Homo sapiens: one gene and its partners. The protein of the gene in region 1 interacts with the protein of each later gene in a pairwise test. Each region holds a gene or a part of one and is shown in the gene's direction. Other genes may lie near its edges.

Region 1 (7,000 bases):
CAGTTGTGTGGTTTCTCTGGCCCTTGCCAGTAGGTTTCCTGCTAATGTTTTCCTTCTCTCTCTGCAGAAACTGAGAAGACAGATAATTTTTCCATTCATTGGTGGCCTATTTCATTCATTGGTGTTGGACTGGTTTTATTAATTGTTTTGATTCCTTGGAAAAAGGTAAGGGGCTCCAAAGCAAAGTTCAGCCCTGTGTCTTGGGCTAGTAAAAAGCTTTTAGAGCAGCTGCTGCCAACCTTACAAGCCTCAAGGGACAGGCCTGCTGGAAAGGACTTTGTCAGTCCCTCTTCACCATCAGGTGTTGGGAATGTTGGCTGTGTTCCAATCCAGTTTCCTATCACAGAGGACCTAGCTGTCACATACCATCTGACCTCTGTATGGTGGTTTGTGACTCTGGGGTGATGTGTTGTAAAGCCTCCCTCTCTTTCTCCATACTAAACAAGTATTATATCTCTGTGAATGAACCAGACTTTAGTGTTCAGACCAGGCCCTGAACTATGTGTGGACTGCTTGTTTTTCTCACACATTTAGAAACTATGGCTTAGAGAGGGGAATTCCTCATATTTTATCTGATCAATAACTGACCACCAGATCTCACTAGTTTGACTAAGAATTTCTAACCCTCACTAGGTATTTCTAAACTAAAACATGTTTCTAAACATTTTTATCCCTGACTATGGCCCAAATAGTAAATAAAACAGCTCAAGCTTTAGAGGCCCAAGAGACCTATGTAAATGTGTTGGTTAAAATAGTTTTAGATAATAAAAGGGCCCTCAATTATTTATGGGCCTGTCAAGGCAAAATCTGCACAACAGCCAGTACATCTCATTATAAATAATTTAGGAGAAGTGGAATAATCAGTCAATTAAGAAAAATGGCCCTTTATCTAAAGTTGGCCATTTAGATTCACGGGACTTATTCCTGTTGGATCTAGGCCATGAGAAAACTGGATAAAAAGTGGTTTTCAAATGTTTCTTGTGGTATTTGTGACTGTTGTCATATTTCTTGCCTTTCTCTGGTTCTGATATTCAGGTGCTATTGAGAGAGGAGGAAGGAAGAAACTAGTCAGGCAGGCAGTTAGGGTGGGCCCTCAGTCAAATTCCTTCAAACAAAAGAACAGCCTGAAAAATCAAACTGCAGATAAGGGAACTTGTACAGGGGGGCTTGCCTAAAACATGCCCACAGCCACATACATTAAAACAAGGCTACACAGGAGACTTGCCTAGACATGCTCACAATAGAAAATTCCATCCCCTGACACATGCACAGTAAGGGGAACAAAGCCACATGGAGTAACTCAAGCTAAGGGCTTGCATGCACACTACGAGGATGGGGTGGAGCTACCAGAAATGTGTGCCTTATGCCTTTGTATTCAGCTGTGAAATGGCAACCCTCTTTTGGGCCCCCTCTCTGCAGTGGAGTGCTTTCTTCTTTTGCTTATTAAACTTTCACTTCAACTTCATCTTTGGGGTCCGCGCTCCTTAATTTTCTTGGTCATGAGACAAAGAACTTCAGGTGATACCTTGGGCAATGAGAGACTGCTACATTGTGGTGCATTGACGAGACTAACATTTTGGTGCATTGGCCAGGAAACATTGGAAGGGTGAGTAGGAGCGGACCTCCAAACTCTTTACTTTCATTTCAGAGGCTTCTTGTCCTCAGATTTTTTCCTGAAGACTGAACAAAACACTGGGCCAGTTAAAAGCTTTTAGAGCGGCTGCCAACCTTATGAGACTTAAGATACAGGCTTGCTGGAGAGGACTTTGTCAGTCCCCCTTCACCCTCAGGTGTTGGGAATGTTGGCTCTGTTCTAATCCAGTTTCCTTTCACAGAGGACTTAGCTGTCACATGGGCTAGAAGGAGGTCCTGGGGCAACTGAAGGTTTCTGTTTGAGGCTACTCCTCAGTGTTACCTGAAGGTCCCTGGACTAACTCCAGCCCCCGACAGCCCGTCAGAATGTTGGCACCAGGACTTCCAGACTTTTCTATTGCATTTTCTTCCTTGCTTTTCGCAGCTACTATGTCTCCTATTCCTTCTTTGTATGCAATGTTGTGGGTGTCTTTATAGCCTGGGGAGATAATCCTGTTAAGCAAAGTCAGCAAGTGCCTTAGTAACGAGGAATGTAACTCAAATAATTGTTGTTTTTGTGATTTCCTTGAGACAGGGGGACTTCAAGATTTCAGCCTAAATTTTCACTTAGGGCCTTTTTGTCCCCCAGTGATAGACATTCATGGCACTCTATAGGGGGATGTTTCACCCCAAGTGAATACCCTTTTCTCCATCAGGTTGTTTTTCCTTCATGTAAGAGCTCAGCATTGCCCAATGAATTTAAGCATTCCCTCTATGAGACAAACTAGTTTTTTTTCTACTGGACAGCATATTATGGGGACAGCCTATTAAGCCCCAAACCTCCCTTTCTGACCTCTGCTTGGAAAGAATTTGTAGTCAGAGTTTTTTCCTAACATTTCAAACCCTATAGTGCTACCTAGTGGGATGGGATTTTTCTCTGTGAGAAGCCTTGTCAGCCCTTTGCCCAAAACCTCTAGTTCCCTGATTCCTTTCTCTCTTATGTCCCTCTTTCAGTGATCAGGCCCCATGCCCTATTTGTAAGCATAAAAACTCCTCTTTCAACAGCCAGGAAGAAGCTACCCTGGGAAGACATATTTTAGCCTCAGTGTTATCCCCATTGGAGGGAGAACAGCCATTCAATTTTTACATTCTTTTGAGGCATCTGTTCTGTACACAGCTACACTGGCATCTAAGTGAGAAAGGGATCTTGTGTTTAGAAATCAATCAGTCTCATTCTCTAGGAATTCATAACTTTGCCAGGGTGGTAGTAAGAGGATGTAAGGATAGAGTTAAGATGTTCCCTTCCTTAAAGGGTCTTGCCCCAATCCAACTACTGCACAATCTCTCCCATGGTTCTAGGGAATCTCAGGAGCCTTATGGGCCAAGTAGGTCTAGGAAACCAGCAGGGCAGAGAGCTAGGACCTTGTGCAGGTGAGCACAAGCTAGCTCCTCCGGATTCATGGGTGAAGGTCATGCTTTGATCCATGGGCAGCACCTATAATGGTCACCAGGAACCTGAGGAAATGGGAGGGAAGAGGAGAAGGGGGACGCCCCTTCCATTTTTCTCTCTGCTGTCGATCACTCCAGAAGGACAAAGGAGACTAAGGGATGCCTTTTCTCTCCTCTTTTTCTAGATATGTAACAAATCATCTTCAGCCTATACTCCTCTCAAGTGCATTCTGAAACACTGGAACTCCTTTGACACTCAGACTCTGAAGAAAGAGCACCTCATATTCTTTTGCACTCGGGCATGGCCGTCTTACCAGCTGCAGGATGGGGAGGCTTGGCCTCCTGAGGGAAGTGTTAATATTAATACTATTCAACAACTAGATGTTTTCTGCAGACAGGAGGGCAAATGGTCCGAGGTTCCTTATGTGCAAGCCTTCTTTGCCTTGCGAGACAACCCAGATCTTTGTCAGTGTTGTAGAATTGACCCTGCTCTCCTAACAGTTACATCAGGCAAGTCCATAGATGATAATTCCACAAAGTCTGAGAAACAAACCCCTAGGGAACACTCGGATGCAGTTCCGGATGCCCCAATCCTTCCTGTCTCCCCTATCTGGGAACCTCCTCCAGCCACAACATCAACAACTCCAGTTCTATCCTCCCAACCCCCAACTTTACTGTTACCCCTACAGTAAATGCCTGATGGACCTGGTGCCACTAGGGTCCAAGTTCCCTTTTCATTACAGGACCTTGGGCAAATAAGAGGGGACCTGGGCAAGTTCTCTGATGACCTGATAGATATATAGAGGCTTTCCAAAACCTAACTCAGGTGTTTGACCTTACTTGGGGTGATGTTATGTTGCTCTTAAACTCTTAACTACTACAGAGAAACAGGTAGCCCTGCAGGCAGCAGAAAAATTCAGAGATGAACAACATGTCTTCTATAGCCACTCAATAAGGAAAGAAGGTGAGAAACAACCAGCATTCACATACCCAATAGGAAGCGAGGCAGTGCCCCTTGAACAACATAATTCGGACCCCAGTGGTACCTTAGATGAGTGGCAAAGAAAACATTTTCAAATGTGCTTATTAGAGGGCCTACAGAGGACCAGAGCCAAGCCTCTTAATTACCCCAAACTCTCCATGATAGATCAAAAACTAGATGAAAATCCCTCAGCCTTTTTGGAAAGGCTGAGAGAGGCTGTAGTGAAACACACTTCCTTGTCTCCTGTTAGGTATGTTTATACCTCACATAAATAATTCAATTGAGGGACAGCTAATTTTGAAAGACAAGTTTATTACTCAGACAGCCCCTGATATCAGAAGGAAGCTAGAGAAACAGGCCATGGGATTAGATAGCACCTTACAAAACCTCCTGAAGGTAGCCACCTCGGTCTTTTATAATAGGGACCAGGAGGAGGCCCAGGGGAAGGAGAGGAAACACAAGAAAAAGGCAGAGACTCTGGTGGCCACTTTGTATAAAACCCAGTATCCCCAAGGTACACCTGCTAGTTGCTACCAATGTGGCAAACTAGGGCACTTCAAAAGGGACTGCCCAGGCAGCAAGAAGAAGCCACCTCAACCCTGTCCAGTATACAATGGGGACCACTGGAAGGCAGACTGTCCTGGGAAGCATAGGTCACTGAGTCCAGAGCCAGTCTCACAAATGGTCCAGCAGGACTGATGGGTCCTGGGGCTCAACTCCCTGGCTCCAGTGGCTCAGACTGCTGTTACTACCCGGGAGCACCAGGTGATTCTGGAGTTCGAAGGGAGGAAGGTAGACTTCTTTCTGGACACTGGAGCCAGGCTTCTGTTTTCCTCTCCAATTCAGGCCTTCGTTCCTCCCATAGCACAACCATGATGGGCATCTCAGGAAAGACTTTAACTTGATATTTTTCTCAACCTATTAGTTGCAGTCAGAGGGACCTACTGTTTACACAGGCCTTTTTAGTCATGCCTGAAAGTCCCACTCCTTTATTAGATAGAGATATTCCAGCACGTATGGGGGCCACCATCCTTATGGCTCCAGGACAAACTCCGCCTCCCCTTAGTGGAAACCAGTATTAACCCAGAGGTTTGGGCAACTCAGGGAAGAAGTGGCCGGACTATAACCACTATACCAGTCTGGATCCACCTCAAGGATCCCACTTTTTTTCCTAACCAGAGACAATACCCTCTGAAGCCAGAAAGTAGAAAAGGGCTAGACGCCAGCATTGATAACCTAAAGGCACAAGGCCTCCTTAGGCCTTGCAGTAGCCCTTGAAACACCCCAATATTAGGGGTGCAAAAATCCAATGGGGAAGGGAGACTAGTTCAGGACCTCTGCCTTATTCATGAGGCTGTGATTACGATTCATCCAGTAGATCCCAGTCCCTATACTTTGCTAACTCAAATATCCAAGGGAACTAAATGGTTCACAGTTCTGGGCCTAAAGGATGCCTTTTTCTGTATACCTTTATACCCTGACTCCCAATACTTGTTTACCTTTGAAGACCCCTCCAATCAAACCACCCAGTTAACCTGGACTGTACTGCCTCAGGGATTTAGAGATAGCCCCCACCTATTTGGGCAAGTATTGTCAAGAGATCTCTTCGAATTCTTCCATTCTCAGGTTAAAGTTTTACAATATGTAGATGACATTCTCCTCTGTGCCCCAACTGAGGAAGTTTCTTGAGACGGCACTGAGGCTCTCCTTAATTTCCTAGCTGGAAAGGGATATAAGGCTTCAAAATCTAAGGCTCAGCTCTATCAGACTTTGGTAAAGTACCTAGGTCTGGTCTTGTCAGAAGGGAACAAGAGCACTAGGCGAGGAGAGGATTAATCCCATTTCCTCCCTTCCTCTCCCCAGAACCCTCAAGCAGCTGAGGGATGCTTGGGCATTACAGGTTTTTGTAGGTTATAGATACCCAGGTATGATAAAATAGGTTGCCCTTTATATCACCTTATAAAAGAAATTCAAGTGGCTAAAACTCACTTCCTGACCTGGGAACCTGAAGGTCAAAAGGCCATTAATCAGTTAAAACAAGCCTTGCTTAAAGCACCAGCCCCCAGTCTTTCTGTAGGGAAGTCCTTTAATCTTTATGTATCATAAAGGAAAGGAATGACCCTGGGAGTTTTAATTCAAGTTCAAGGCCCAGCTCAACAGCCAGTAGGTTACTTAAGTAGAGAGCTTGACTTGGAGGCTAAAGGATGGCCAGCTTGCCTCTGAGCAGTTACAGTAGTGGCCCTGCTAGTCCCAGAGGCCACCAAGTTAACCCTGGGGAATAACCTGTTTATGCCTCACATAAATAATGTGGCAGGCTTGCTGTCCTCTAAAGCGAGTCTCTGGCTAACAGACAGCTGCCTCCTCAAGTATCAGACTTTGCTGCTAGAGGAATCTGCAGTCCAGTTAAAAACCTGACCTTGCCTGATCCCAGACACTTTCCTCCCAGAGGAAACTGGAGAAACTGAACATAATTGTGAACAGACTGTAGTACAACCTATGCCGCTAGGGAGGATCTCAAAGAAATTCCCCTAGAAAATCCAGACTGGACCCACTTTATGGATGGGAGCTCTTTTGTAGGACAGGGAGTCTGAAAAGTGGGATATGCAGTAGTCACCCTAAATAACATTGAAAATGTGCCTCTCTCACCAGGCACACACACTCAATCAGTTGAGCTGATCCCTCTCACAAGAGCACTTGAACTAAGCAAAGGAAAGACAGCTAACATTTATACTGACTCCAAGTGTACCTTTCTAGTTCTCCTTGCCCATGCTGCCATCTGAAAGGAAAGGCACTTCCTCACCGCTAATGGGTCTTGCATTAAATACCATCAAGACATCAACAGGCTATTATCCTCAGTGTTCCTCCCATGAGAATTAGTGGTCAGACATTGCAGAGGGCATCAGAAGCGGGTAGATGAAATAGCGAAAGGAAACAGGCTAGCAGACCAAAGAGCTAAGTCAGCAGTAAGAAGGCCCCAAGGTCCCAAAACACTTGAGG
Region 2 (8,353 bases), on another chromosome or scaffold:
ATCATGCCAAATTGGTACATCACAAATATGTGGAAGATCTTTTTTTTAGGTAGAGCATTCATTAGGTGGAATAAAGTAACCTCTATGCCAAAAGGTTAGTAATAAGAGAAGACAGTTTTAAGTTGGAAATATAATTTTTAGTGATGGAAATAACATTTTTATGTGAAGGTAATTATACCTGTACTGATTCACTGTCAGTGGGATATGCACTTAGATTTGTGGATGTGGGTAGTATGTAAAATTATGTTAGTTTTATTTTACATAGTTAGTAAGTTGTTTTCTGTGCAGTAGATTGGATATTTTTGTCTACTTTAAACGTACTATCTTCCTTGTGACCAGCGGCACGAATTTATCAAGGGTAGGAGTGTTGTTTGTAGCCATGAAACACTTCATCCTCTATGAAGTATATTGCTCCATAGGAAAAACTTGTCATCATTGTCATCATTATTAATGTAGATAACATAATGAGTGTTTACTATGTGCCAGGCACTGTGCTAATATGATAATACATATTATCATATTTAATCTTCAGAACAGACTTATGAGACATATACCGTTATTATCCTCACTTTACAGATGAGAAAACTACAAATTACAGACGTTGAATACATTCCCAGAAATCCAGTCATGTAGGCAGTAACTTGTGAAGCTGGAAAATTTGAATCCAGGCAGTTTGACTCTAGAATCTTTGCCCTTAATGACTGTCCTATACTGCCTACTTTGTATGTGGTCTATAGAGATTTACTGGTGTGTAAAGTATTTGGATCTCTGCCACTTTTTTTGGACACAGGAGGTGAAATGGAAATGATAATGGGGGTTACATGTCTTCCTGCTGATGTTAGGAGAAGCAGCATGGTGTAATGGAAATAGCTTTGGGCCTAGAATAAAAAGATCAGAGTTTGACCTCTGTATCTGTATCTAGAGTGAGATTATTTAAAAGCAATCTAAAAGCAAATGCTGTTGAAGGTTTTATGATTTTATGTAATCACAATATGTAAACATTTCAACTTATATAACTACTATAATTTGTGACAGATGATTTGTTTTGAAGGAAGATTTGCCTTATGATTATTTAATTACTCAGTTACTGCATTAATTTTAAGTCCACCAAACTTTTCAGGAGCATGTCTATTGTGAAACAACCGGGTATGTGTGTATGGTAACACACTTTACTTAACATGCTTAATTTAGTTTTGTTCTTTTTTTGTACTAATTTGCCTACCTATCATATCCAATTTTATTCACAAACTATATAGATATATATCTTTAGTCTTATGCATATATCTATATATGTATCTGTCCCATGGCAGTGTAAGAGTTTGTATTTTTTCATGTGTTTTTATTTACCTTTTGATGTCTATACATGTAAGACATGAGACTCTTTACATCCCTGAAAGCTTGGTTAAGATGGTGTCTGCTAGGTTTATTCACTATAAAGTCACTATTTTTTCTTTTGTAATTACAAAGTGAGACTATGCAGGGCAATATTGTGAGACAATGTAAATATCCTGTTTCTCATCATATATTTGCCCACTAATTTTAGCATATGTTGATGATTCTGGCTTGAATAAATTATTGTTGTGACATTTGCCAGACATTGATTTCAATTTTCAACATTTTTACATTTATTAATTGATTGAATTATACTGTAATAAAAAACTTTCTCTTTACGCTTAATGTATATATTTATTCAGCTGTTTATAGCAGTATGGACTTAATGAATATTTGTTTTATTCTATAGGTTATAATGAATTATGCTCTTACTACTTTTTGTTTTTGCTGAAACCCAGATTTGGCCAACAGGAGCCCCTTCAAATTGGCTCCTGTGTCCTTTCAACATGTCTCCATCATTTTTTAAGCACCCTCTTACTTTCTGGCACCACAGATGTTCCAGACTCTTTTTTTTTTCTTTTTTTTTTTGAGATGGAGTCTTGCTCTGTCACCCAGGCTAGAGTGCAGTGGCGCGATGATCTCGGCTCACTGCAAGCTCTGCCTCCCGGGTTCACACCATTCTCCTGCCTCAGCCTCCCAAGTAGCTGGGACTACAGGTGCCAGCCACCATGCCGGGCTAATTTTTTGCATTTTTAGTAGAGACGGGGTTTCACCATGTTAGCCAGGATGGTCTCGAACTCCTGACCTCGTGATCCACCCGCCTTGGCCTCCCAAAGTGCTGGGATTACAGGCGTGAGCCACCGCACCTGGCCTCCAGACTCATTTTTTAATTTCCTTGCCCCAACTCTGGAATCAGAATCTTTTCTCCAAGGAGCTCTGATTCTTTTTATTGGAGAATGGTATGTAGAAGCCAAGATCTGGGTGCTTGGCATGCTTATTGCTACTGAGGTGTCATTGCCTCTAGGCCCTCTCAGCAGGCAGAACTAGGAAATATATGTATATATGCACACATACCTGTTTCTATATCGATTTCTTGAAGTCCCTCTTTATATATGTCAAAATCATGGATTCATAATGATACATCTGATTCCAGTCCAAGACCCTAGAATAAATATACATGATCTCATTCTCTTCTGGTATTTCTCTTCACACGTTTTGTGGACTTTGTAGAGGTCTTATACAGAGTCTTCAAGAGGTTGGCCTCTGAAGTCAGACATGGAATCTGACTGGTAGATGTGTAACTTTCAGCAAAATAGTAATCTTTGAGACTTAATTTCCTCATTGGCAAAAGGAAGGCCGTAGCACCTATCTCACATATTTTTTTTTTTAGGATGAAATGAGAAAAGTTATGTAAAACATATAGTATTTGACACCATAGTAAATGTTAAATCAATTTTAGATTTCATTATTGTCATTATATTTATTGACTTACCATTTCTTACTACATCAACTCTCAAATCTCCTGTCTGATTTTCAAGGCCTATCATGATCTTTTCCCTTATCCAACCTTATTTTTCATTACAGTTTATAATATACTCCCTCCAGTCTAGCCTAGGTAAGCTTTCCTACAATCCCGTGAGCACTGCATACACATTTTGGCCCTCCATCTTGATTAGAATTTTGTGGATTCAAGTCTTTGCTCAATTCCAGCAAATGTTTACATTTATTCAGCAGATATTTATTCAGCAACTTCTAAGTACTCAAAAATTCTATTTATGCTGTTCTATTTCTATTCATGGAGGTGTACTGCCTACAAAATCATTTTGTGCTAGACACTATGGCTAAAACCAAATAAAGACAAGGTTCTTCCCTTCATGGTGTTTACATACTGGTGAGAATAGCTAAATAGTCCTGTGAAACTTTCCCTTATTATAGTATCAAATACTGATTGTACCTTTCTTTGAACATTTGTAATATTTAGCCTCTCCCAGTTTCGTATCTGCATGTATTTGGTCTTATAGGCATTTTGTTTTATGACATTTTATCTGTTCTTTTTATTTGATTAAAGTCCCTTTTGAAGCAATAACTATATATTTGTTCATTCAACCAATTCATATGTTGATTTTATATGGTAACAAAAGTAACAGCTGCTCAATGTTGGAAACTTGAAAAACATAAAGAAAATAAAAATATGTCCACAGTTCTACCAGCAGGCCAGAACTGTGCTGGCTGAGCACAGAATAATGGTGTGTGTTTTGATTATTGTTGTTTTTACTATTTTCTTTCCTATATATATAATATGTTTTTAAAAATAAATTTGGCATAGAACAATGACTTGTAAGAGTACAATTTTTGAATTGTAAATGATATGTTAAGGTTTGGATGTGAATCACGAAACTCTAAGCACAATTCATGTTTCAATTGCTATGGTAAAGTTTTCATTTCATGAAGATACTGAATTTTTAAAATACTAAAAAACCTGATTAAATAAACACTAGCTAATAACTAAAAAAAAAGTTGGTTAAAATAAAAAAGTAAGTTGGGCTTATTCTACATATAGTTTTATTTCTTACTGTTTGATCACTTATCAAGCAGTTTCCCATGTTAACATTCTTAGTTTTAAAACGTTATTTTAAAATGATTACATACAACTTGTATTTATACACACTCCAATTTATTTACCTGTTCACTTTTGTAGAGTATATTTTAAAATGTCAAGATTTGTTAGCCATCGTAAGAAGTGCTGCCATGAACATTTCTTATTCCATATTTTTATTATTTTATTGCTACAGCCGCCTTCATGGGGAATTAGTGGGTTAAACGCTATAAGTATTTTTCAAGTCTTTGATACATACAGTAGACCCTGATATTTAAAAAGGCTATATCAACAGAGAAATTATGGTAACTTTTTTAGTGGTTACTATGTTATATCCTGTTAGGTAGCTAATGTTATTTCCACTTTTATATACAAGGAATCAGAAGCCCACATTGGTTAAATAACTTGCCAAAGGTCGTGCAGTTGATACATGATTGGGCCAAGATTTAAACCAAGGCTCTAGAACCTGCTCATGAGATTCTCCTCAATCCCTATTTCATACATGGTAGATAATAGAGAAAAGTAAAGTCATGATGAAAAGTTGAATAATTCTCATTGCCCTTTCTGTAAACCCTTCTGTGACTGGTCACTTAAGATGATTCTGAAGAAAGACTCTCCATTGGCTCATCTTTTAATAAGTCTTTACCATAACTGCCTAGGCCGTTCATCCTTAAGGGCTTAAATTTTAATTTTGTGCACAATATATCCTCCTACTTTTCTCCCCTGGGCAGAAGGTGGAGCTTGCCCTCCACAAATACCTCTCCTACTGATCTCTTCCCAGCTATAACAGTGGTATAACATACTCAAATTCATTGACATTCTCCCTCCCCCAGAAGAGTTTTGTGCATATGCATCTGAAATGAGAGCCCCTTCTGACCACTTTCCCCACCCCTCTCACCAGCCCCTGCACTGTAGCTGTCTTTCAGGCTTACACTTAAATGGCTGTGTCTTTACCTAGTATTGTCCCTAGCTTTCATCTCTCCCTTAGTGATACTCAGAAACTTCCCTTCATTAATTCTTAATCTTTTTTTTCCACTTTGGGGAGATAATATCACAGCCTCAATTCCCTCTTTTTAGAAAATTAAACTGGTTAGTACATACGGAATGTGAGGTCCCCCATCCATTTTGTACCACTCCCAATTTGTAACATACTCACTTTACCTTCTCCTCACATTTCCTCAGTAGCCAAATGACATCATTGCCTGTTTGCCAGCCCTATAGCTTGCGCAATTGAAATTTATTTCTCTGCAAAGTCACAAACTGTTATGCATTGTGGTTTTTCCAGGTGGCATTTGAATAGCTGAACTTTAAGCTCCTGAGTGATAGGGATCTGCTCTTGCCAAATTACTTTCCAGAATGGTTTTACCAATTATACTCCTATCAGTAGTGTATAAGAGTGCCTGTGAGACAGACTTAATTTTTCTTTCCTATCTACTACAGTGACTATGGAATTGATGCTCAATTGATTGCCAGTTGGTTGGCTGATTTGGTCTTAGTCTCTAATGATTTTCTTTTACAAATGTAATCATTCCATCATCTCATCCCCTTGTGATGATAGCAGCTACGGAACAGAAGTAATTTTTGAAAATGTATTCTTTCTAATTAACATTATAAATGAACCACCCAGACACTTAGCTAAATCTTTATTATAAAGATTTGTTTTTAAATAGCAGTAATTCTTGAGGATTTTAGAGAAACACCTTCAGTGTGATATGTGACACATAGGCTTCTTTCATTTTAACAAACCAGATTCTCATTTTATGCAACTTGAACTTATTTACCTCCATAGTCTGTCCAGGTCCACCCACACTTTGTGCCTTTAGCAGCTTCTGCTGGCCTTTAACCAAAAGGGCAGTCTATGATGGTACTTGCTACCCTGTTGAAATGGGAACCTTAAATCCCTTGCTTTTCATTAATTAAAGACAGTCAAAGGCAAATGTTATAAAAGAAACAGGCTTTTGCTAAATTTAATTTTTAACTTTTTTATTTTAATGAATCTGTTATAAATGTCAGATGCTTACTAACTTGTAGAGAATGTAAGTACCATTTACAAGCAAGTTCTATTCTGGTTAATGGAATTGTGTTTTTGACAGTAATAAAATAAGACTTCAAGAAATTCTGTTAAGGAATTTGTATCATGCTATAATTCAATCAAATAATATTTTTCCTGTATATAGGAGAACTGGCTGGTTTGCTTTCAAAATTTCTTACAGTGTATATGACATTAATTGAGTACTGAAAGAGATATGGAACTTTGAGAGGGGCAGTGGTATTAGGAGTGGGACATGACTGATGAATTATTTAGTATATTCTGTGTTTACAAGCCCTCCAAAAGCTTGCTAAAGGAGGACTGGTCCTTCTCTGTCCATATTCTCACAATTTAATTGATGTAGTAAAATGTTTCTGTATGTGGAAGATAGTCATGGTGGTGTCTGTTTATATTAGATAGGTTGTTTTTCTTGCAAGTGCTAAAAAACACTATCTGTCTTAAACAATAAAAACAATTTTTAGCTCACATAACAAGAAGTTTGGAGGTTGATTATCTCCAAAGTTAATTAATTCAGCCAAATAATGACACTAGTAAGGGCCAGAGTTTGTTCCATTTTTCTGTACTGCCATACTCTGCCTATCAACTTGCCCTCTAATATTAGTGCCCCTCATACTCTCAAGATGGCTGCTGCAGTTCCAGGAATCACATGCAGACACTGCAATGCCCACTAGAAAGAGAGTATGAACTATTCATGTGTATCTCTTTTTACTAGCAATGGAAACTTTCTAAGGAGTCCCACAGCACCACCCTGAAAACACCTCTTATTTATCATTGGTTGAAATCGTGTTATATGTATATGCCTACACCAGTACATTGGCAAGTGGTATACGGACATAAACGTAGAGTTAGTCCAGTCACTCACACAACCACCTCTCCCTGCCCTGCGTCTGGCCAAAACACATTGCTACCTAGAAAAGTTGGAGGGTGGAAAATATGTAAATAAACTCATGATGTTTTGGGGGGAAGGAAGAAACAGTTTCTATTTCACAACCTCATGAGTTTGTCCTCAGGATCAGTTGATACAAAAGATTTGTAAGAAACTGGTGTATTTGTTAAATGTGATATATTACTTATCTAGGGAAACGAATGTTTTGTATAGTTCTACAAATGAAAGTTGTTGACTGTTCATAGGCATTTTAGAGCTGGAGGGACATTAGTGATCTTTTAGGTCAGTAGTTCTCAAACTGTGGTCTGTGGACCCCTACGGTTCCTGAAATCCTATTAGAGAACATGAGGAATATTTTAACAGTAATATTATCTTAGTCTGTTTGGGCTGCCATAACAAAATACCTCAGGCTGGGTGGCATATAAACAACAAATTATATCTCATTGTTCTGAAAGCTGAGAAGCCTAAGATCAAGGCAGATCAAACCTAAGATTCAGTGTCTGGTGAGGGCCCTCTTTCTGGTTCACAGATGTTATGGTCTCTCTGTGACCTCACATGGTGAAAGGGGAAAGGCGTTTTTTTCTCTGGAGCGTCTTTTACAAGGGCACTAATCTCATTCATGAGGGCTTCTCCCCGTGACATAATCATCTCCCAAAGGCCCCACCTCCTAATGCCATCACCTTGAAGATTATAATTTTAAAACATATGAATTTTTTTGGAGGGGACATAAACATGTATCATAGCAAATACGAAGAATGTTTACTTTTCTCACTATGTTGACATTTGCACTGATGGTGAGTAAAATTACTGGTGCAGTGTACCACATTTTCTTAGTAGTTGTATTCGTCATACTCTCAGGGGGGAGAAAGCCAGTTTTACCTCAGAGGGTCCTCAATGTAGCATTAATTTATATTAATTGAATTTTGACCCTTGAGTGTATGTCTTTTTAATATTACATATGACAAAATTGGAAGTATACACAAAGCACTTATGTACGCTGAAGTAAGATAGTTGTTTCTAGGAAAAGCACTTGTGCAATTGTTTGAGTTACGAGCTGAACCAGTTGATTTTTGCATGGAACGCTTTTTTGTTTGTTTTAGATACAGGGTCTTGCTGTGTTGCCCCAGCTGGTCTTGAACTCCTGGCCTCAAGAGGTCCTCCTGCTTCAGCCCCCCAAAGAGCTGGGATTACAGGCATGAGCCACCAAGCCCAGCCAAAATTCATTTTTACTTGAAAAACAACTGAGACAAACTGTGGTTATTTATACTTGGGTATTTGGCGGGCATTTTCTTGAAAATGAGTAGAATTAGCCTACCACTTCAGGGAAAACTACTGGCAGTATTTGTGGCCAATGAAAAATTTGAGCTTTTCAAGTAAGAATGAGAATTTTGGAAAACTTGAACCTGACACCAAGAGTGTGACAGCTTCCCAAATCTTAGACTTTTCTAATGAAGCTGGTAATTATATTAATGTGTATTTTTTATATTGT
Region 3 (8,353 bases), on another chromosome or scaffold:
TCCATTGCCCAGGCTGGAGTGCAGTGGCTCCAGCTGGGCTCACTGCAACCTCCGCCTCCAGAGTTGAAGTGATTCTCCTGCCTCAGCCTGGCTAATTTTTATATTTTTAGTAGAGATGGGTTTCACCATGTCGGCCAGGCTGTTTCTTTATTTTTTACTAAAAAAAAGTTTAACCCCCGAACCTCGAAGGAAAGGGAAGTAGTCTTTCTTAACAGAACCAATTCCCCCTGGATACCCCACCCTCACCCTACCCTCTCCCAGGCCACTCGATGGCCAGGTTCGCTGTGGATTTTTCCAGACCTGTGGGCTGTTTCACTGGTTACTTTTGTAATGAAAAATGCACACAAAGGTTACGATGAGGACGATTAGCCATGAATCATTTTTAAAAAGCCTGAAAACAAGTCCCTGGGACAGTGCTGGCTTCGTTGGAGAGACAAGGCTCAGGGGAGTGGGTGCAGCTGGGGGTCGGGGTGGGGATCAGAGAAGGGACACATTCCTTATTGTGTTTCTGGGTCGCCTTCTTTTTTTTTGTTTGCTTTATTTATTTATTTATTTATTTTGAGACAGAGTCTTGCTCTGTTGCCCAGGCTGGAGTGCAGTGGCGTAATCTTGGCTCACTGCAACCTCCTCCTCTCGGGTTCAAGCAATTCTCTTGCCTTAGCCTTCTGAGTAGCTGGGATTACAGACGTGCGCCACCACACCAGGCTAGTTTTTTATTTTTAGTAGAGACGGGGTCTCACCATGTTGGCCAGGCTGGTCTCGAACTCCTGACCTGAGGTGATCTGCCTGCCTCAGCCTCCCAAAGTGCTGAGATTACAGGTGTGAGCCACCGTTCCTGGCCTTCTGGGTCACCTATAGGGAGGTCTCCAAGAACAGAAAGACACCCTGAAACCCACTGGCTCGACCACCACCTCATAGATGGGGACACAGAGGCTCAGGAGATGAGATACCTTGGGGCAGCGATGGGTCTGGGGTCTTCGGGCCAGGAGTGAAGCCTCACAAGACCTGGAGACCCTGGGTCCCACCCTCAGTGGGGAAGGGCTCAGATTCTGCAGGGCCCGATGCTCTGTGGGGGCTGGGATGTTGCCGCGGCAGGTGGAGAGAGTGATGCTACTGGCCCTGAGAGAACCTTCTGGCACCGTTCAGAGGTGGGGTGGAGTGGCCTGCGGGTCCAATCCTGGCGCCGCAGGCTCTATGAGCCCTGTTTCAGATGAGGAAGGAGGCTGAGACGGGCGGTGACACAACTCCTGGCAAGTGGTCACGCGGCCCAGAGCAGCCCGGCAGACACCCAGCTCAAAGGGAGGGGTGGGGTGGGTTTTGGAGTCACTCGGACCTAGAAAGTTCTGTGACTTCTCATGTCTCAGTTTCCTCATCTGGAAAATGGGACCAGTCACGAGTCCACCATGGAGGCCGAGTGGGCCGTGTGGCTCAGGGAGAAGCAGCTGGTCCCCTGTGGCTGCTGTGGGGACTGAACAAGGCGGTGACCGTCGGGATGAGCACGGACTCCACCACGCAGGCCCCTGCCTACCAGAGGCCTGTGCACAACCAGAGCTGAGCAAGGCTTGGAACCTTCTCCTGCCTCTACGTCCTGCGCCCTCTACCCTGCCCCGATCTTGCCCCTGTTTTGGGGGCGCTGCTCCGTGCAGGGCATTTTCACCTGTGGAGTGTCCAGGGGCTCTCGTGGCTGATAAGGTCTCGTCACAGGTCCAAGCCTTGAGGCCCTGTCTTCCCCTGGAGGAAATGGGGCTAGTGGCCCCACACTGATACCCACAACCCCTCTCTTCTCTGGAGTTTTCAGGGAAACGTTGTTGTCCCACCCCTTCCTCCCTTGAGCTACCCCAGCCCCCCAAGAAGCAGACACAGCGGGTTTACCCACCTGACGTTGGAGGAAGCCAGGCCCAGAGACGAGCCTTGGATGGAGGCAGAGCCGAGGTCTGGATCCCGATTCGCTTTCTGAAGGAGACAAATAAAGGGTGTATAGGTGGCTTCACCCCTCTGCCTGAGCCTGAGTCCTGTCCCTGCCATGTGTGCCCCCTGGCCTGGCCCACCCCAGCTTTCCCTGGACTCATCCCAGAGCAGATATCTGGATCCTGCCTAGCCTGGCTCAGCATGACTCATCATGGTGGGTACCGCCCCTGCCCACCTGTTCCCCATTTGGGCAATTCAGGAGCTGGGCAGTTCCCCAGAGGCCCTAGGAAACTCCCCGCCCCCGACCAGGCTTTCTCCTTGTGGGGCATCTGACCGCCTGTTTTCTGGTGGGGCAGACCCTCTGAGCCCCTTGGCCCTGTGGGTCATAACCACAGCCAGGCCTGAGAAGGGGGCAGCCTGGGGTGGGAGTGTGAGCACGGGACTCAGAACTGGCTTCAGACCCTGCTCTCTTGCTGTGGCCTTGGGAAAGCCACCATGCCTCTGTGACTTTTATTCGTTCCATACAACGGGGGACCTGGATGGTGGTCTCTAAGGCCCTGTCAGTGGGAACACTGGGTGAGTCCCATTGTGATTTCCTGGGGACCGAGTGTGTGCCTGGCCCTGGCTGGGTGCTGGAGCCAGGTGACAGAATCGTGGGGAGTTCTGCCACGTGCTACAAGGTGAGGACCTCTAGAACATGGCGCTCAGTGAAGGAAGCCAGACACGAGGGCCACACACTGCGTGATTCCATTGATACCAAATGTCCAGGATGGGCAAGTCCCCAGAGAGAAGTCAGATTGCTGGCGGCCAGGGGTGGGAGGGAGGGGGAGGGGAACCACTGCTGATGGATACGGGGTTTCTTTTAGGGGTTGAAAATGCTTTGGAACTTGATACAGAGGGTGGTTGCACAACATTGGGAATATACAAATGCTGCTGAATGGTGCACTTTAAAACGGTTAATTTTAGGCTGGGCACGGTGGCTCACGCCTGCACTGGGGGTTTCCATTTGTGGCATGAACATCACTGAAAGCGCACCAGCTTCCATGTCGTATCAAGGGGTTCGGGATGTCCACGTGTCTTATGCTGGTGGTATTAACCTTGCTCGCCTGGACAGGGACACCTGTGAGTGAGAGCAGGCCATTAGTGTGGGGCAGGTGGGCCTCAACTGAGGGTGTCCTGGGAAAAGGCACGTACAGGCACCCTGGTCCGGCTCGTTTCCAGTGGAGGCTGAACGAGGCTCCTTATGGTTCCCCCACAATGTCACTCAGCTGTGGACTCACGCAGGCTCCAGCAGAGCAGCGGTTATGTCTTGGTTGCCCAGATGAGCAGTAGGCTGAGCTGGCCTGGGCTTACCTGAGAGGATGTAGTGGGAGGCTGAGCTGGGAGGTGGTCCCAGGGCTGTGGTCCAGAGCTCCATATCCACTTGGCGGTGGTGCAGGGCCAGTGCTCAGCAGTACCTCCTGCCCCAGGGAGGGTGGCCTTTCATATGTGTAGTGACATCAGACCCCCATCCCCACCCCATGAGCACGTGTACCCTGGAAGCTGGAGGGCGGGGCAGGAGGGCGGGGCGGGGCAGGAGGGAGGGGCGGGGCAGGAGGGAGCGGGAGGGAGAACACAGGAACGTTTCTTGCCGGGACATAGGTCACATGCCCACCCCCCCAGAATGTCCATCCTTACTGCTCATTTTTGCAGCGACCTTGGGGGATGGGGTAACTGTCCCCATTCAACAGGCGAGAAAACTGAGGTCCAGGGAGGGGAGGGAATCATAGTAAGTGGCAGCACCGGAATCTGCTGGATGCCTGACACTCTGTTCCTTTAAAACGTGCCGGGCGCGGTGGCTCACGCCTGTAATCCCAGCACTTTGGGAGGCTGAGGCAGGCAGATCAACTCAGGTCAGGAGTTTGAGACCAGCCCGGCCAACATGGTGAAACCCTGTCTCTACTAACAATACAAAAATTAGCCCGGCATGGTGGCACATGCTGGTAATCCCAGCTACTTGGGAGGCAGGAGGCTGAGACGGGAGAATCCCCTGAACCTGGGAGGCAGAGGTTACAGTGAGCTGAGATCGCGCCATTGTATTCCACCCTGGGCAACAGAGCAAGACTCTGTCTCAAAAAAAGCGCATATCTATGTTATCCATTTTTTGCCAAAATTGGGGTCATTCTGTAGTCAATGTTATATTCTGCTTTCTTCGTGTTATGTTGAGAACAACTTTCTCGTTACTAGAAAGCCTTCAGAAGCTTGGTTTGTGGGGGGCCAGTCTTTAATAGTCCCTGGCTGCTGGGCACTGAGGTTGCTTCTGTGCTCACCCAGCTCCATGGATCCCAGGCCAGCAGCCGCCCCTTCTCCCTGGGGCCAGATTTGCCCTTTGCCCTTTGCCCCTGCCAAAGCCCAAGTTCAGCACAGTCTCTGCTGACACCCCTCTACCCCCGCTTGGCTGCCTCCATGTCCCCTGGACTGCTTGTCTCTCGTGTTCCCCTGGGACGAAAGTGCTCAGTATTCTTCCTGTGGCATCTCCTCCCTGGTCCCTGGTCAGAGGGTCCCTTTCTGAGGTCCAGGCTCCCTCAGCACCAGTCTGTGCCCACTCAGGGCCTCCCCAGCCCTGTGCCCCCCTGGGTCCTAGCCCTCGCCCCAGCAGGCCTTGCTGCAAGTTGGCAGAACTGAATCGGGTTGTGTGGCTTCTTGTCTCAGACAAGAGCAGACGACTCCTGATTCTCCACCTAGAATCAGAGTGAGTGGGAGCTTAGCCCTTTGTTTTTGGATGAGGTCAGGGTGGGAGCCATATTGCCACCAGGGCAGAGCCTGGGCCAGAGTGCAGTGTGGCCCCAGGCAGGCTGCTCTCTGTCTCCGGTGCATGGGGAAGGGGCGGTGGTTTTACTGGGGCCCGTGTGGGGTGCTGAAACAGCTGTGTAGAGACCTTCCTTGCTGCTGTGCACTGAGCTGTGCTCAAGGTAGGTGAGCATTGATATCCCACTCTACCGAGGGGGAAACTGAGGCCCTGAGTTGATGTGATTTGCCTGAGGTCACAGTGAGGCAGTGAGGAAGGGGATTAGACCCAAACTCTGTCTGATACCAGTCACCAAATGAATGAGTGAGTGAGTGAGTGAGTGAAAGGTGAATGTGAAGTGCTGGAACGTAAAGCACTGGCCTGGCAGAGCTCCCAGGACGGGGACTTGACCCAGGGAGGCAGGCTGGGAAGGCTTCTTGGTGGAGGGGACCCAAACTGGCCTTGGAAGAGAGGAGGGGTCAGTGCCAGAGACCCAAGGTCGAGGTGAGGGTGGGCAAAGGTGAGGCGAGGCAGCTGGGGCAGGAGCAAGGCTGGAAATGCGTTCACTCAGCCACTCCCACCCCGCACATCTCTGCGCCTCCTGATCAGCTGACTGGTTGATCTGTGGGTGACAGGCCTTTCGGGGATGCTGGAGGAGACACGGGCCTGACCCCATGGCCTCAGGAATGCCCTCACCCAGCCCTGTCTTCTCTTTCAGAGCTCCCCTGAACAGCAGCTGCAGCAGCCATGGCCCCGCCCTGGGTGCCCGCCATGGGCTTCACGCTGGCGCCCAGCCTGGGGTGCTTCGTGGGCTCCCGCTTTGTCCACGGCGAGGGTCTCCGCTGGTACGCCGGCCTGCAGAAGCCCTCGTGGCACCCGCCCCACTGGGTGCTGGGCCCTGTCTGGGGCACGCTCTACTCAGCCATGGGGTAGGTGGGCGTGCACTGGCCTGGGGATAAGCCTGGCCCTTTGCAAGGGGAGGCCTGGCCCAGGACAGAGGGTCTTCTCCAGGCGGGCCATGGACCATGGCATGGTTTCCCCAGCCCCATTTGGCAAGCCAGGGTGGGGAAGCTGTGGGCCTGTCGATTGCACAACTGAACTTTCTCCTCCTGGGCCCCTGGGGGGATGGGTCAGATGCTCACCCCACCCTGGCATCCCCGCCATGTTCACAGCTCCAGGCAGAGGCCGGCTTAGTGTGTGAAGGTTGGTCTTGGGCAGAGGCATGGACGCTAAGATTAACAACGGCAGCAACAGCCCCAAGAGCAGCTCCTTTGTTGAACGCCTGCCCAGTGCCAGGCTCGTCTCATTCATACTCAACGACCCCCATAATAAGAGGCCTCCCAAGGACACAGGGCTTGCAAGTGTGGACCCCCCACAGCCCCTTCAGGCTCAGTCTGGCCTGAGTCCCCTGGGAATAGACCAGGGGAATTCCACCCGGAAAGGACGTGCTGGGAGGGGCAGGGCGCCTCTTGGTGGCTGTAGCGGGGACCACACCCAGGAGGCAGGGAATTGACTGCCTTCTGAAATGTTCCCTGCATCCTGGTTCTGTGCCAGCGCAGTGCAGGGTGGGGACGCAGGTGCCAGGCACTCTAGGGGGCGGATAGCAGAGGCCAGGCCAGGTGCCCGGCTCTGATGGGAATAAGGCCCTGGAACTTGGGTGTCACGTGGGCCTCACCCCTCCTGGCCCAGGCCCTGCCCAGCCAGGGTCCTGCACTTCCCTGGCTCCAGTGTCCCCACCCTGCTTGGCCTTCCTACACCACCCAGTCCCAGCCTCTCTTCGGGGGAAATTTTGGGGCTCCCTGTGGCTCTGGATAAGGCGAACCCCTCATTAGTAGGTGACAGCCGGGGCTCTGGCCCTGGCTGACCAGACTTTATCCACTGATGGCCTGCCAAGAGATCTCAGTCACTTCACCGCCTCAGTCTCCTCACTGTAAAGGGGGTGCTGATACTGCCTGCCTTATGGCATCATCATGAGACTGAAATGAGTGAATGCTTGGGAAGTGGTAGGGCCTGGCTCCTGTGAGTGCTGGAGGGCATCGGCTGCTGTTACTGGTGGTGTTATCGTTGCCCTGTGTTAACAGCTCCCATGATCAGGCCTCCCCCTGGACCTCACCCTGCAGTCACAGACTGACTCAGGGTCTCACATCTGCCTCAAAGCCTTTGCATGTCCTGTTTCCTCCCCTGGAAAACTCCTATTCATCATTTAAGGCCCAGGCCAAATGTCCCATCCTCTATGCAGTGCCCTGGCTAGGTTAAGAGCCTCCTCTCTACCTATTCACACCATGTGCTTCCCTTTCATAGCAGTGACAGTGATAATAATGGCAGGTATTTACTGAGTGTCCTAAATGCTGGGTATCGCATGAAGCACTGCCAATGTGCTAACTAGAATCTCTACAGCAACCCTATGAAAAATGAAGGCCCAGACAGGTCAAGCAACTTCCCTGAGATCACACAGCAGTCAGTGTCAGGTCACGTATGAACCATCACTGTGCCACTCGGAGGTGGGCAACGCTCCTGGCCTTGTTCCTAATGGTGCTCTGAACTGCGGCCTCTGTTTCAGGTACGGCTCCTACCTGGTCTGGAAAGAGCTGGGAGGCTTCACAGAGAAGGCTGTGGTTCCCCTGGGCCTCTACACTGGGCAGCTGGCCCTGAACTGGGCATGGCCCCCCATCTTCTTTGGTGCCCGACAAATGGGCTGGGTAAGTGTGGCCACAGCATGTGTCCCTGATCCCTGGATCCGACCCTTGGAGGACGTGGGGCATCACATATGACACTGGGTCAGTGTCTATAGGCGGGGCCAGGGGAGACAAAAGGCCATGTCTCTCTAGCTGTAAGCAGCCCACACCCTGGAGCCTCCCCTCTACTGACTCCTCCGGTGAGGGAAGCTATTAAAGCAGAAGGGGTTGCAGGGGTGGGTTTGGGGGCCACTGTGTAGGAAAACCCACACGAAGCCTGGTACTGTGTGGGCAGGGTCACTGGCCCCTCTACATAACAGCTTCTTCTTTTTTTTTTTTGAGACAGAGTCTCACTCTCTCACCCAGGCTGGAGTGCAGTGGTGAGATCTCGGCCCACTGCAACCTCCACCTCCTGGGTTCAAGTGATTCCCTTGCCTCAGCCTCCCGAGTAGCTGGGACTACAGGTGTGCACCACCACTCCTGGCTAATTTTTGTATTTGTATTTGTATTTTTTTAGTAGAGATGGGGTTTCACTATGTTGGCCAGGCTGGTCTTGAACTCCTGACCTCAGGTGATCTACCCGCCTTGGCCTCTCAAAGTGCTGGGATTACAGGTGTAAGCCACCGCGCCCGGCTGACTGCTTCTTTTTTAAAGTTTTAAACTTTTTTAAGAGATGAAGACTCGCTGTGTTGCCCAGGGCAGACTCGACTTCCTGGGCTCAAACGATTGATTCTCCCGCCTTTACCTCTTGAGTAGCTGGGACTCCAGGTCACGTCACTGTGCCCGGCAGCCTTTTTTTTTTGAGACAGAGTCTTACTCTGTTGCCCAGGCTGGAGTGCAGTGGCATGATCTCGGCTCACTGCAGACTCCACCTCCCAGGTTCAAGTGATTCTCCTGTCTCAGCCTCCCGAGTAGCTGGGATTACAGGCATGCAGCACCATGTCCAGCTAATTTTCTGTATTTTTTTTTTTTTGAGACGGAGTCTCGCTCTGTTGCCCAGGCT
Region 4 (8,364 bases), on another chromosome or scaffold:
CATTCCAGCCTGGGCAACAGAGCAAGACTCCATCTCAAAAAAAAAAAAAAAAAAATTAGCTGGGCGTGGTGGTGTGCACCTGTAATCCCAGCTTACTAAGAAGGCTGAGGCAGGAGAATCACTTGAACCCGTGAGGCAGAGGTTGCAGTGACCCGAGATGGCCCCACTGCACTCCAGCCAGGGTGACAAAGGGAGACTCCATTTCCAAATAAAACAAAAAAATGGAATGGAAAAGGAAGTCGTTTTGTGAACTCTGATGTCTAAAGGACCAGTGGGTTTGCTCTGAAATAGTTTATTGCACTGAGTTGGTCCCCTTAATCTCCTCCCCACCATGGGAAGGTTTGGAGTCATAATGGAAAGAGGCCCAGCTTCCAGGGGCCAGAGAGGGCAATGATGAAGCTGAGCAGAAGAGAGTACGCTGTCCTCCCACATGCTGCATATACTGCAGCATGCCCCTGGCTCAGGCTCTTTCCCTGGATTGAGGTGATTCTTCCCCAGAGCCCTTAAGGAGACATCTACAGTCAACAAATAACTCCAGTGACATTACCTGAGCACTTCCTCTCTGCCAGTTGCCTAGTTGGATACAGGGACCAATAGATCCAGTTAGTCCCCTTCTCAAGGAGTTCACAGTCTCTTGGGAGCGACAGACATGTAAACAGCTAATGCTAATGCAAGTACACATGAATATTCAATAGGTGGAAACACAGCCTTCGTGCTCTGGGAGCAAAGAGGGAGCATTTGCCTGAAACCTTGAAAGTAGTGTAGAAGAGGAAAGGAAGGACATCCCCGATGAGGGAATGGTGTGAGCCAACACACAGGGTATGAAGTGCAGGACTTGTTCTGTGAAGGGCAAACAGGCCAGTGAGGCTAACTCCAGGCAAGTCCCGAAGGAGACTGTGAGAAATGAGGCTGGAAGGAAAATTTGAGGGCATCATGAGGGGCCTTGAATGCCAGGAGCGAGATATCCTGAAAGAGGAGATTTGTGAGTCCTGGGGACTTATACATGGGGCCAATTGAGGGGGTGCGCTGACTCCCACCAAGAGAGGAAATGCCCCAAGCTCACCCTTCAAACAAGCAGCATCTTACCCTCAAAGGTTTCCCAGCTTGACAGTTTCAGCTCTGGCATCCTTCCCTCCCCCAGCCAAACCCATAAGTGGATCCAGATGGTCATTCCTATTTTAGGTTGGGGTGTGTGTTGGGGGAGGGATAGCTCTGAAACCTATCAATCCTGTCCCAAGCTCAGCCATAACAGGAGCTTCCTCCAGGACCCTGCTGTGATCCTGTGAGCCTGGAAGGAAATATTAGTCTTTGATGGAGATTTCCCATCTGTTTATGGGTGATAAGGAAGCAACAGCAGAGGAGTCCAGGGCACAGGCCAGAGAGACTCTTACAATTGGGTGAGAGAACCAAGGTGTATATGTGAGAAGGAGTGTTCTGCAGGGATGAATCCATTATTTAAAAAAAAAAAAAAAAAAAAAAGGCCGGGCACGGTGGCTTATGCCTGTAATCCCAGCACTTTGGGAGGCTGACGCAGGTGGATCACAAGGTCAAAAGATCAAGACCATCCTGGCCAAACATGGTGAAACCCCATCTCTGCTAAAAATACAAAAATTAGCTGGGTGTGGTGTTGCGCACCTGTAGTCCCAGCTACTCGGGGAGGCTGAGGCAGGAGAATTGCTTGAACCCAGGAGGCAAAGGTTGCAGTGAACCAAGATTGTGCCACTGCACTCCAGCCTGGTGACAGAGTGAGACTCTGTCTCAAAAAAAAAAAAAAAAAAAAAAAAAAATCTTGTGGATGGGTTGTGGTGCGGGGCAAGCCTGTGGGACAGGCACCAGAGGATCTGGCTTCTACCTCCAGGTACCCGGCCCTCCTCATGCCACGTTTCTGCAGCTGCCTAGGCCAAGGGTAGGATGACGTGGACCTTAGGAAAGGAGCCAGGGCTCTGTGGTCTGATCCTCTGCCTGAGCACTGTTCCCACCAACCCAAGCCCATTGAAAAGGTTTGGGACACCAAGAGGTAGCAGGTTCCTGCGTTTAGACTGTAACCAGCACGTGATACCAAGCCTGTAAGTATTTGCCTTTCATTCAATTTAACAAATATTGATTAAACAAATACCATGCACTAGGCACTATACTGGGCATTGGGTATACACACGTTAGCAAGACAAATAGAGTTTCCAGTCAAGTGGGGGAGGCAAATAGTACATAGCTACAAAGAAGCTATGAAGAAAAAGAACAGGAGATTAATGGGGGCTTTCTCATTTAGATTGGGAGACCAGGGATGGGCTGAGAAAGTAATATTTGATCTGAGACTGGAAGAATGAAAGTTAGCCGCTTTAAGTAGATAGGAGTAGTATTTCAGGCAGAGGGGAACAGTGTGTGCCAAGTCCCTGGAATATGAAGGAGTGCATGAGAGGAACTGAAAGAAAAGGCCAGGATGGCTGTAGTATAGTAAATAAGGAAGGGGCATGGGTCCAGATGGTGCAGGGCTTTGTGAGCCATAGTAAGATATTTGTGTTTCATACGAAGTGCAACGGGAAGCCATTGAAGTTTGGCAGATTAAATGTGGTACGTGTATTAGTACTACCAAACTTGTGGCAGGCCCTGAGAGACTTACTTTGGTTGTTTATTCATCAATACCTACAATAAATGTTTAAAGGGTACCCAGCAACCCTGTGCTAGAATTATGGGCTGACAGTCATGGTAGGGAGATGTCTAAGGCACAGACCTTCCTCACAGCCTGTGGTCCAGAAGAGATTAGATAACTACAGTGATTGAATCAAGAAGTCATGTAATTTATTCTCAACAACTGTAAACTACACACCTAATCTATTCCAAACCCTGTGCTGGATGCTGGTTGTTGCCCTTCAAGGATCACACACTGCACAGGGGTCAAGGAGAGGTACAAACGTGCTCAAAGAATTTGGAGTGGGTTAGAATCATTTTCTAACCCACTGTAATCATTATCATGCCTGCGAATCTCTGAGGTCTTTATAAAACATCCATTTATTCAATCACCTAATAAATCAGTAAACATCTAGTGGGCATATGCTTTGCACCAGGAACTGTGCCAGCTACTGAAGTCAAGGACCTTAGAGTTCTATAGCAGAGACAGACATCCCCCACAAAAAAACATGAAAATATTAGGTGCTACAAACAGGACAGCAAGCTCTCCATAGATCAGCATTGAGGGAGGGTAATTCAGTGGAAGAAGGACCTTCCCCAAATGGGAAGCTCCTAACTTCCTGAGTGCATTTGTCCATACCTTCCTTTACCTGATTACTCTTTTTATTCTTTTTTTTTTTTCTTTAAGGCTGATTTTTAGTGGCAGCCTTCCTTCTGACTTTGGGCTGTCCCCAACTTCCCCTCCCCACCCCAGTAGACCCCAGTAGACTTCATTTTCTTTGTCTTGACATCCTTTAAAAAGCCAAAAGTCTCCAACATTTGAGCCTGGCTTCTCTCTAATTATGGTTGTGTGTGATCTCAAACAATTAACTTCCCTGAGCCCGTTTTCCCATTTGTACAATGAAGGGATTGGATCACATCTAAGGCTTATGATTTACTCCAGTAAGTATTCACACTCTTGCACACACTGCTCTGCACGGCCTTCCTTTCTTTGTACCGCTGCACTCATACTTCCACTCCTGTGCCACATGGCAAACATCAAGACTCAACTCAATAATATCCTATCTTCCAGCAAGTCTTCCCTGTATATACAATAAAACACACACACACACACACGTGCGCACACACAACTGTGTGTGTCTTCCTTTATGCTACCACTACCTCGTGAGAGGGCCACAGAATGAAAAGGGCAAGGGAGGTATAAGACTTGGGTTTGGGCCAGGCGCGGTGGCTCACGCCTGTAATCCCAGCACTTTGGGAGGCCAAGGCGGGCGGATCACAGGGTCAGGAGTTTGAGACCATCCTGGCTAACATGGTGAAACGCCACCTCTACTAAAAATACAAAAATTAGCCGGGCGTGGTGGCACGCGCCTGTTATCCCAGCTACTCGGGAGGCCGAGGCAGGATCGCCTGAACCTGGGAGGTGGAGGTTGCAGTGAGCCGAGATTGTGCCATTGCCCTCCAGCCTGGGCAACAAGAGAAAAAATTCCGCCTCAGAAAAAAAAAAAAAAAAAAAGACTTGGGTTTGCATCGTGGTCTCTCACCTTTTGAACCTCAGTTTCTCACCTGTAACAGGAGGGAATACCTAATTTGGATGTCTAATTAGTTTATGGGGATTAGAAACAATTCATGTCAAGTGCTTGGCACCTAAGAAGTGCTCAATAAATAGCGACTGTACCACACCTCCTAGGAGCCCTCAGCGTACTGAATTAGAGTTCTCTATAAGTCTCCGGCGCTAGACTGCGAACTGCCTGAGAGCATCCCTTCTGCAGCCGCGGGGCATAAGCGGCAAAGACTCGGGGCTGGCAGGCGCATAGGGAGTGGGGCGGGGCTGGCCGGGCCCAGAGGAACGCGGCTCGGATTCCCGGGGGAAGGCCAAGCGGGGCGGACCCCATCTCCGGGAAGTGACGCCATGGGGACGAGCGGCACCAGAGCCGGGGCCAGTCGGAGCGGGGCGCGCGCCGCATGGCGGAAGCGGAAGGGAGTTCTCTGCTCTTGTTGCCGCCGCCGCCACCCCCGCCCAGGATGGCGGAAGTGGAGGCGCCGACGGCGGCCGAGACGGACATGAAGCAATATCAAGGCTCCGGCGGCGTCGCCATGGATGTGGAACGGAGTCGCTTCCCCTACTGCGTGGTGTGGACGCCCATCCCGGTGCTCACGTGAGTCTCTTCCGGCATCCGCCTGGGGACGAGGAGGGCCCAGGGAGAGCCGGAGTCGGGCCGGGCTAGCCTCCGGCCCCAACGCGCAGCAAGCCTTTTCCTCGGGTCTGGCCCGCACGCCTCGCCCAGTCACCAGAACCCCGCCATCCATGTAGTGCCAGTTTGTGCACACGGCTGGGACACGCTCCCTGCTCTCAATACACCTGGTGTAGCCAGGGAGAGAGTTGTAGGCCAGCAGGAAAGGGCAAGTGGCTGGGAGACTCGAGCTGTGAGTGTGTAGAAGAGGGAGCCCCTTATCGGATCTGAGGAGACATTTTTATTAATTCACTGGTTTATTCTCTCATTGAGCAAATGCTTACTGGTCGCTTACCATATTCCAGACATACTGCTGGGTCTGGGAGCAAGAGTGGGAGTTTGGTTGGGACCACACGAGATCCTGGGATGTCAACATTGGAAGGGCCCCCAGAGATCTGAGAGTCCAACCCTTTGTCTCACGTGCCATCTCAGTTGCAAACTGGGTTTAGATCCCAGGTTGTCTGCCTCCCAGACCAAAGTTCTTTCTGTAACATCAGCCTTTGTCAGGGGAGAAGCAGGTGCTCTGGTACTACTTGGCGCCTTTTGGGAGGAGCTCTCATATGGGGAGAGGTGGTTTGCCCTCCTGCTTCAACCTTGACAGCTGATAAACGTAACCCCTCCTCACCGTGCTGGATAGTTTGCCAAGCTCTTAAACACCCATTTTATCAGAATTAAACATCCATTTTCTAAGGTAGGTTATCTTCTCAGATGGTGAAGCTGAGCTGCTTGTAGCATTAAGTGTCTTGATCAGGTTCGCACCCCAATAAGCAAAGGCATGAAGAGCTCAGTCTTCTGATCTAACTTGCTCTTTGCACTACATCTTATCCACTCTCACCTGATGGGATAGCTTGTTCCGCTATCAATAACAGCCAGTGGTGATGTGGAGAAGGGATCATTTGGGGCCTTAGGTGTTGCTGATTCTAAAAAGATCGTAGTTTTTGAATTATGTTAAAATACTTGAATTATTTTGTGTTTTCAAGTACTTATGCATATAAGAGCATCCAAATCTGTTCTTTAAAAATAAAATATTGGGACAGGCGCGGTGGCTCATGCCTGTAATCCCAGCACTCTGGGAGGCAGTGGAGGGTGGATCGGTAGGTAGTTCGAGACCAACCTGGCCATCGTGGCGAAACCCGTCTCTACTAAAAATACAAAAATTAGCTGGGCATAGTGGCACGTGCCTGTAATCCCAGCTACTCTGGAAGCTGAGGCAGGAGAATCGCCTCAACCCGGGAAGTGGAGTTTGCAGTGAGCCGAGATTGCACCACTGCACTTCAGCATGGGCAACACAGTGAAACTCCGTCTCAAAATAAATAGTGAAATAAAATCTTAGGAAAATGTGCACATTAATTCATTCAGTGTTCTTCTAACACATGTGCTAAGTGACCCCTGTGTTCCCAGATAGTTCTAGGTGATGCGAATATACAGTGATGAATAAAGGAGATATGGTCTTTAGACTTTTGAGAGTTTAAGTCATAGTGGAAGGAGATAGACAGTAAACAAGTAAGCTAATAAAAGAGCACCTGATAGTGATGAGTGCTGTGAAGAAAATAAAATATTAGTGTGAAAATAACAGGGGCCGGGCGTGGTGGCTCAGGCCTGTAATCCCAGCACTTTGGGAGGCCCAGGCGGGCGAATCACCTGAGGTCAGGAGTTCAAGACAAGCCTGACCAACATGGAGAAACCCCATCTCTACTAAAAATACAAAATTAGCCGGGGTGGTGGCACATGCCTGTAATCCCAGCTACTCAGGAGGCCGAGGCAGGAGAATCACTTGAACCCGGGAGGTGGAGGTTGCGGTGAGCCAAGATCGTGCTTTTGCACTCCAGCCTGGACAACAAGAGCAAAACTCCGTTTCAAAAAAAAAGAAAATAACTGGGAGGGATACTCAGGAAATGTATTGGTTTTCTTAAAACCTGTCTTGTGATCCTAAACTCTCTTTAGCCTTTCTTATTCTCAAAAACACCATCTGTGGCGTGGTCCTCTGCGGAGAATGGTAGCAGCGTGAGGTGGAGGCACCACAATCCCTTGTCACCTGGGCCAAAAGCAGCTCATAGCCCATTTCTATTCAGATCTGTGTACAGGTGTTCATAAGACCAAGATGAATAAGACACTGTGTTCCTGTCAAAGGGTTCATGTTCCCTTCTGTGTTAGTCCATTCTTGCACTAATACTTGAGACTGGATAATTTCTAAAGAAAAGAGGTTTAATTGACCCATGCTTCTGCAGGCTATACAGGAAGCATAGTGGCTTCTGCTTCTGGGGAGACCTCAGGAAGCTTCCAGTTATGGTGTAAGGCAAAGGGGGAGGGAGGCATCTCACATGGCGGGATTAGGAGCAAGAGGGAGTGAGGGGGGAGATGCTACACACTTTTAAACAACCAGATCTTGGGAAAACTCACTATCACGAGAACAGCACCAAAGGGATGGTGCTGAACCATTTATGAGAAAACCAGCCTCATGATCCCACCACCAGCCCCCACCTCCAATATGGGGACTACAGTTTGACAGGAGATTTGGCGGGGACAGATCCAAACCATGTCACCTTCAAAGGACTCACCTCCAGCAGGAGGGAGAGAAAGGTCAATTAGCCATCGTAGTATTACTGTATAGTGATGATTGCAGAGCTAGGCATAGATGTGGCGCAAGTAACTGTCACCTGTCTTTGGAGGAGAGATCAGAGGAGGAAATGGAACCCAAAGATCTGTCTACCCCCTCAGAGATGTTGGTAATTCTGCATGAAAAACCAGTTTAGTGCTCGCCTCAGCAGCACATATACTAAAATTGGAACGATACAGAGAAGATTAGCATGGCCCCTGCGCAAGGATGACATGCAGATTCGTGAAGCGTTCCATATTTTTGTCTCCCTGGACTTCGAGCAGGAGATGGCCACTACCACATCCTCCTCCCTGGAGAAGAGCTACAAGCTGCCGGATGGCCAGGTCATCACCATCAGCAACAAGCGGTTCCAGTGTCCGGAGGCGCTGTTCCAGCCTTCCTTCCTGGGTATGGAATCTTGCGGCATCCACGAGACCACGTTCAACTCCATCATGAAGTGTGACGTAGACATCCGCAAAGACCTGTACACCAACATAGGGCTATCCAGAGGCACCACCATGTACCCGGGCATCACCGACAGGATGCAGAAGGAGATTAACGCCCTGGCATCCAGCACCATGAAGATCAAGCTCATTGTGCCCCCAGAGTGCAAGTACTCTGTGTGGATCAGCGGCTCCATCCTGGCCTCACTGTCCACCTTCCAGCAGATGTGGATTAGCAAGCAGGAGTATGACGAGTCAGGCCCCTGTATCGTCCACCGCAAATGCTTCTAAATGGACTGCGAGCCGATGCGTAGCATTTGCTGCATGGGTTAATTCAGAAGTATAAATTGGCCCTGGCAAATGCATATACCTCATGCTAGCCTCACGAAAATGGAATAAGCCTTCGAAAAGAAATTGTCGTTGAAGCTTGTATCTAATATCAGCACTGGATTGTAGAACTTGTTGC

What was found.
Region 2: the proteins of NCR3LG1 (region 1) and COL4A5 interact in binary tests that used the Homo sapiens proteins (3 or more experiments, as listed by UniProt).
Region 3: the proteins of NCR3LG1 (region 1) and TSPO interact in binary tests that used the Homo sapiens proteins (3 or more experiments, as listed by UniProt).
Region 4: the proteins of NCR3LG1 (region 1) and TMEM222 interact in binary tests that used the Homo sapiens proteins (3 or more experiments, as listed by UniProt).

What each region holds. Positions count from the first base shown.
Region 1 is NC_000011.10:17,368,800-17,375,799, forward strand, and holds part of NCR3LG1 (natural cytotoxicity triggering receptor 3 ligand 1 precursor), read left to right. Parts: intron 1-67; coding exon 68-165; intron 166-3,206; coding exon 3,207-3,713; 3' UTR 3,714-7,000. UniProt on the Homo sapiens protein: Triggers NCR3-dependent natural killer cell activation.
Region 2 is NC_000023.11:108,442,315-108,450,667, forward strand, and holds part of COL4A5 (collagen alpha-5(IV) chain isoform 2 precursor), read left to right. Parts: intron 1-8,353. UniProt on the Homo sapiens protein: Type IV collagen is the major structural component of glomerular basement membranes (GBM), forming a 'chicken-wire' meshwork together with laminins, proteoglycans and entactin/nidogen.
Region 3 is NC_000022.11:43,153,817-43,162,169, forward strand, and holds part of TSPO (translocator protein), read left to right. Parts: exon of another isoform or gene 1-2,122; intron 2,123-5,393; 5' UTR 5,394-5,422; coding exon 5,423-5,604; intron 5,605-7,235; coding exon 7,236-7,374; intron 7,375-8,353. UniProt on the Homo sapiens protein: Can bind protoporphyrin IX and may play a role in the transport of porphyrins and heme. Promotes the transport of cholesterol across mitochondrial membranes and may play a role in lipid metabolism, but its precise physiological role is controversial.
Region 4 is NC_000001.11:27,317,608-27,325,971, forward strand, and holds the start of TMEM222 (transmembrane protein 222), read left to right. Parts: upstream 1-4,555; 5' UTR 4,556-4,590; coding exon 4,591-4,784; intron 4,785-6,266; exon of another isoform or gene 6,267-8,364.